Homo sapiens: one gene and its partner. The protein of the gene in region 2 interacts with the protein of the main gene of each other region in a biochemical or structural test. Each region holds a gene or a part of one and is shown on either strand. Other genes may lie near its edges.

Region 1 (3,500 bases), on a different chromosome or scaffold from region 2:
GCTGCCATGACAAATGGCAAAGGATTGGGACCTGCTACTGCTGGTGAGGAGGGGACCGTCATGGCCACCTACAGATGGGACACAGGGCTGTGACATCCTGACCAGCAGGTGGTCTCTGTGGATGTCCGGCCCCAGCCCTGCCCTGCGCTGACCCACTGTCCCGGCAGCCTGACCAGCTCTGGGTGCCCACTCGGAGGGTCCCCCAGACACCTGCCCCCATCCCGTGTCTCCCGCAGGGTCCTGCTCCCACTCCAGAGCCCGGGGAACCTATGGCAGGAACCGCTGGTCTCGCTGTCGGCCCCAACACACCACGAGGTTGAGCTTGTAGCTGGGATACGGGCCTGACAATGGATCCCTGTAGTTCAGCAAATGTTCACTTTACAAAAGCAGCGGCCCTCCCGGGCACTTTCCTTCCCCAAACCCCGAGTATGTCTCCTCAGCCTAAGCAGCAGGGCAGGGGCTGTGAGGCTGCCCAGCTGGGCAGAGCCCCAGGCAGGGGGAAGAGGGGGCCCTGGTTTCCTGCGTGCCATTTTGAAGAAGATGGCGGTGATGGCCCTGGAATGGCCAGCAGGTCGGTCACTGTCCGGATGAGGATAATCGGGCCCTTTAGGGCGGCTGCTCTGTGAATTCCCTGAGTGGGTGAGCTCAGTACCCACGACGCACTGCCCGCCGGGCACCACTACCCCTTTCACAGATGAGGAAACTGAGGGCTCGGGGTAAGGAAGGGCCTGGGGCGTCCTGTGGTAAGTAACAGAGCTGGGTGTGAGGTGAGCCACCCAGGGCCCTGTCCACCCTGAAGAACGGGGCACGTGGCTGTGTAAAGTACAATGACAACTATCTCGTTCCTCCAGCTCCACCCTGAAGAACGGGGCACGTGGCTGTGTAAAGTACAATGACAACCACCTCCTTCCTCCAGCTCAGTCCTTCTGTCCCTGTGGCCTCAGGGCCACACACTGTGCAGGCTGCTATGGGCGGAGGCTCCTTTCAGGAGGGCGTGCAGTGTTTCCTTCCTTCTAGCGAATCCCTGTTACACAGTCAGGGCTCCACCCAGCAGGCCTGGCTGGCCACACCCCACACATGCCAAAGAGTGGTAGACCCCGGCTGAGCTCCTGAGAGGTAGCCTCTGAGCCCTTGGTACATCCTACCCGATGGGGGTGTCATTGTTCCTGGGGCCTCAGGTCACACCGGATAGTCCCACAGTGTGATTTGGGGTGGGGCCCTGGACAGTTTTCAGCTTGACCTCTGGAGGGCTAGAGACTGAGGTCAGCCATGGGGTGTCAGCCGCGCCGCTGTGACTGACCCCCAGTAGACACCGAGGCTCAAGAGCCTCCTTGGGGACCATGTTCTGTGCATGAGGCCACACATCATCGCTGGGAGGATGGAGCGCCGCCCACACCCCTGCAGGGAGGGGACACTGGGAGCTGGTGCCTGGTTTCTCTCCTGTGCACCTTTGACCTTTGCTGACTTTTGTCTGTATCCTCCCACCTCGGGCAGCGGCTGGCACCCAGGAGGGTCGGCTCTGCAATAAACTGTAACTGTGAGTTTACTGGTTCCTGAGCTCTGCAAGTCCTTCCGGCAAATCACTGATCCTGAGAAAGGTCTTGGGAACCCCAACAGCACCTGAGCGTCTTGACGCACTGACCTGCTCAGGCTGAACACATGGCACTAGCAGCGGAAATGCAGGATGAACGTGTTTCACTGGGGGCCTCTTTTTCTAGGAGCAGAGGCTGGTTATCAGCTGTGCTTCCTTCGTGAAATTCATCCCACTCCGCACTCCAAGCTTGTGAACGTTTTTGTGTAATTTTATCTTCACGGAGAGTGTTGATGTTCAAATGTATGTGAGCATAAAATAAGTGTGTTTCCATAAAATAAAGAATTGTGTTGTATTCCAGGAAAAAACAGAAATATCACCAATGCCAAGACATGCTGTTAACACAGCTGAGTTTCAGGGACGGGGAGGAATTCCTCCTCCTATCGACACGCAGGCGTCCTGTCCCCGACGGGAAGCCTCGGGCTCCTCACCTAGGGGGATCCAGGACCTGGGCCGGCTGGTTGCTCACGTGCCCAGCATGCAGAGGTGGCGCTCAGACCTGCAGTGGCGCTGGGTCTGGCCTGTGGCTGAAACATGCCCCCACCCAATGGATGCTCGGGACCCAACAGCACTCACCTCGTAGGTCTTCACCATCCTACTGGTCACCGCGAAGATGGGCTGGATGTTGTTTTCAGCCAGCTTGTGCGCCAGCTGGCCCACCGATGGGTAGTCCTGGAGAGAGGAGGTCCTGCTCAGTTGGCCCCGAGTCCAGGACAAGGCTTCCAGGTACCCGCCCCTGTCTGCCCCGCTCAGCGTCAGCCCTGCCCGTGCTTCGAACCCTCTCTGGGGAAGGCTGGAGAGGCAGAGGCTGCCACGCAGGAGTGCAGGGCAGAGAGCTGCCACGCCCTCTGGGCAATGTGTGCATAGACTCGGGCTTTCAGAGTCCAGGCATGAGCAGCATTTGAGGCGTCTCACCGTGGGACTGGGGATGTCCACGGGGGCAGAATCCCAGCCTTCCCCACACGGTGGACCTGCTTTCGCACTGAGGGACACTCAGTTTCGGTAGAGGCCATGAGTGTCAGGTGCGGCTCTCCCTACCCGAGTTCCGGGACCCGAGGGCCGTCCCTCCCGTCTGTGGCTCCCGGCGGAGGACCTGAGTCTTGTATCTCTAAAGTCCTTTGCGGCCCCCAGAGCCTACAACGTCAGGCTGCAAGAGCGTCGCACTACGGCCAGCGAGGACAAGCCCCTTGTGACCAGTGGTTGCCTCTCGGCCCACGGCTGATCCCAGCCAGAAGTCCTGGCCCCTCTGAGCCATTGAGATGCCTCCGCAGAGAGGCTCATCCTAACCCGTGCATCCTGGGCTCCTTCTCGCCTCTGTCCCTCCCTGCATGTTCCTCATGGTCCCCGCAGCCGCTCACCCAGCTCAGGCAATGGGGGCAGGGAGGGGCCACACTGGAGGAGGCGGACTCAGGGGCAGCAGGGAACGTACAGTGGAGGCCGGGAGGGGGAGGAGGCGGATGCTTGGGGATGGGACCCTGGCCAGAGGCGGGGACGGCAGGGTGCAGCCGTAGCCTGGGGGCGGTTACTATACCTCCACAGCAGCTGTCAGCCCAGGTAGGGGGGCAGTGGGGCTGGAGACCAACAGAGCCTGGGTGTCCCACAAGGGCGAGGCCGGGCCTCAGCCTGGCTGCCCCCACCAACCCTACCCTCCCCTGGCCTGAGGCCAGTCCGGGGAGACCCCACGCTGCCACTTGGGGCTTCCAGAAGTTTCCTCAGGAATCTGCTCCTTGGGTCAGAAGGAGGCTCTGTCAGGTGGAGACCCCACCCTTGTCTCCTCCGTCAGTGGTGTCCTGCCAGGCGGTGCCTGGGTGCCTGGGGTGGGGACTTACGAATTCGTTGCTCCTCTTGTACAAGTTGTCCTCCAGGTGACAGCGGCCGTCGTTGGGGGTCAGGATGGCGCCCAGCTTCC
Region 2 (3,500 bases):
GTCCAGCACAATACACAGAGATGTTTCATCCCTTTCATCTCTCCTGTTCCAAATGACCTATGATGTGTGCCCCCCATACTTGAAATAAGAAGGCAATCTTCTAATTCTTACTATAGAATAAGTGTCCTAACTGATCGTGAATGCAAGAAATACTGAAGAAAAAATCTGTTTGACATAATCTCTTTTGATTAACACATGGAACATTTAGAAAGGAGCAGGTATGAGCCATAAGATTCCAGAAACTGAAGTGTTTTGTTTTGTTTCGTTTTTGTTTTTGTTTTTTGAGATGGAGTCTCACTCTGTCGCCAGGCTGGAGTGCAGTGGCGCGATCTCGGCTCACTGCAACCTCCGCCTCCCAGGTTCAAGCAATTCTCCTGCCTTAGCCTCCTGAATAGCTGAGACTACAGGCGTGCACCACCACACCCAGCTGATTTTTTTATTTTTATTAGAGACAGAGTTTCACAATGTTGGCCAGGATGGTCTCGATCTCTTGACCTCATGATCCGGCCACCTTGGCCTCCCAAAGTGTTGGGATTACAGGCGTGAGCCACCACACCTGGCCTGTTTTGTTTTTGAGACATGGTCTCACTCTGTTGCCCAGGCAGGAGTACAGTGGCACGATCTCAGCTCACTGCAACCTCCGCCTCCCAGGTTCAAGCGATTCTAGTGACTCAGCCTCTTGAGTAGCTGGGATCACAGGCAGGCACCACCACACCCGGCTAATTTTTTTTTGTATTTTAGTAGAGATGGGTTTTCACCATGTTGCCCAAGCTGCTCTTGTACTCCTGAGCTTAAGCGATCTGCCCACCTCGACCTCCCAAAGTGCTGGGATTACAAGCATGAGCCACCATGCCCAGCCTGAAACTGAACAGTTTATCATTATAACCCAGACCAATACAATCTGTTTAATTCACAGGAAGGTGTGGTGGCTCATGCCTGTAATCCTAGTACTTTAGGAAGCCAAGGCAGGAGAATCACTTGAGGCCAGGAGTTCAAGACCAGCCTGGGTAACACAGTGAGACCCTGCTCTATTTAATTAAAAGAAAAATTATAGTTTCAAAAAAAAAATCTACTGGCCAGGAGCGGTGGCTCACGCCTGTAATCCCAGCACTTTGGGAGGCCGAGGCGGACGGATCACCTGAGGTCAGGAGTTTGAGGCCAGCCTTACCAACATGGTGAAACCCCATCTCTACTAAAAATACAAAAATCAGCAGGGCATGGTGGCGTGCGCCTGTAATTCCGCTACTCAGGAGGCTGAGGCACAAGAATTGCTTGAACCCGGGAGGCAGATGTTGCAGTGAGCCGAGATTGTGCCACTGCACTGCAGCCTGGGCGACAGAGCAAGACTCCATCTCAAAAAAAAAAAAAAAATTAAATTAAATTAAATTTTCTAAAAATCTATTTAATTCACAATTTCTTCTCGTAAGGAAACATTTTGTAGTTGGCCAGAAGACAATATATGGGTTGAGAGATCTTTCATCTTTAAAAGAAAAATTAAAAGAAAGGTAAACGACTGTTACAATTAGCCAAAATCTAACCTAAACCCCAGTCAAAACTGATACACATTTTCCCCATGCTTAAAACAGTGACAAAAACCTGTAAATCACTTTATTTGATAGAAAAGAGTTAACCTAAGTTAAGTAAATAAACCATCATTTCTTATGATGTAGCCAGTTCATAATACACAAATATGCAAAATAAAAATTTTTTTCAATCCAGCTAGTGATCAGTAGATTTAATAAGTCACCATTTTGTAACCACCAAATTCAGTTTGTTTGCTTGTTTGTTTTAAAAAAAAACTTTTAAAATGTTGATCCTCACTGAGGGCACATTTGCACTATTACAGGTACGTGTACTGATACATTGCTAAGAAAAGAGTAAATTGGTGCAGCCCTTTTGGAAAAAGTTGGCACCAGACATCAAGAATTCTAAAAATGTTTATACTCTGACATGTTCATGTCACCCTGAGAATATATCTTAAAGACCACAAAGTGTGTATAATTATGGCAACCTTATGTTCCAGATTTTCTAAGAAGGTGTTCACTGTAAATAATTGTGTTCTTTTCAATAAAGGCAAATCAGTAAGTTAGTAACTAAGTTTGAGAATAATGGAAGTCATCCATATCATAGAAAAACAAAGAAAACGGGTTCTGCATGGGGTCAAACATGCACAGAAGTGTTCTGGTTTCTGTTTGAAATGGAGAGTTGAGGAAAAAAACTCAAACTCACCACATATTAACTTTTTACAAGATGGAACTTGGTTCAATCCATTATTCCCTCCACAGTTGCTGAGCTGCCTCTGTAGGGCCCCAGGCACCATGCCTATTCTGGAGACATGGTGATGAAAAGGCAAATCTTTCTTAAATGCAACAGGCTCCTCTCCCCAGCCCGCAGCAGCACCCAGACATGCCAGTGCCCAGACCTTATTTTTCTTGTTGAATCTTCTCACCACCCACACACAGGTCTCCATGGTACAGCATGACAGCTCTTCCTATAATTCTGATATAAATCCTCCTTTTATCCAGAGTCTTTGGTCACAAACCGTAATACATACATGTGAAATGTTCCCAAATCTTGAGTAGACACTCAAGATTATGCCTGTGAGAAAACTCCTTTCCATGAAAACACAGAAGAAACTACTCTCTTTTCTTATCAAACCCCCGAAGTACCCACCAGGGCATTCGGCATGGGAAATCGGGTTAGAACTGCCGCAAGGCACTGCTCCCTCAGACAGCCCACCACCTGTGGCTGGCATAACGGCCCTGGACTTGCTGCCTGCTTTCCCTCTGTGCCACTAGGCACCCACCCCTGCAGTCACCCCAGCTCCCGAGGCATCACACCATCCACAGACCACAGGGTTAGTCCTCCTGAGGTCCCTCTGTGTGTTATGACACCACACCTAACCCGGCACAGAAACCAGGCTGAACACCCTGACAGTCTCCTGTGGCCCATGAAGATTGGGGGGGCCGCTGGGGGTTAGGGGAAGAGGAGAGATGGAAGGAAGTTACTAATTAAGAGTGATCTTGAAAGCCTCGGGTGCTAAGGGTCTTTTTTCTTTTTACCCCTGTCCTGAGTATTCCCTTATATCCTTCCCTCAAAGGCCAAAGCTAGAGACAGCAGATACGTTTTTATGCAATTGGACCTCAATGCTTCTCGAAATATGCGAATGAACAACTTTCTTGAATGTCTTACCCCACCACTCTTCCTCTACAGAGAAAGTGAAACCTCGTTTTTTTAATTCTTGCTGAAAACACTGCTATTTTAACTTGAAATTTGTTCTTTCTTGTTTTAGATAATGAATTAGTTCTACCTTTCCTGCTTTAGATAATCAATCTGGGAACTCAATGTAAAAATTACATCAAAGGCAAATAAAAAGTAAGGTATTTCAGAAGCTGAATAAGTAAAGGACATTTGCAGACGTCTCTTCCTTTTCATTTGAAAACTCACCTAAAAATTATTTTAAAATTCTCTGTTGACAACTTCCCTAATTGAAGCTAACT

What was found.
Region 1: the proteins of CYTH1 (region 2) and ITGB2 form a complex in vitro, tested with the Homo sapiens proteins (one study listed by BioGRID).

What each region holds. Positions count from the first base shown.
Region 1 is NC_000021.9:44,896,900-44,900,399, forward strand, and holds part of ITGB2 (integrin beta-2 isoform 1 precursor), read right to left. Parts: coding exon 3,421-3,500; intron 2,264-3,420; coding exon 2,168-2,263; intron 1-2,167.
Region 2 is NC_000017.11:78,772,274-78,775,773, forward strand, and holds part of CYTH1 (cytohesin-1), read right to left. Parts: intron 1-3,500. UniProt on the Homo sapiens protein: Promotes guanine-nucleotide exchange on ARF1, ARF5 and ARF6. Promotes the activation of ARF factors through replacement of GDP with GTP.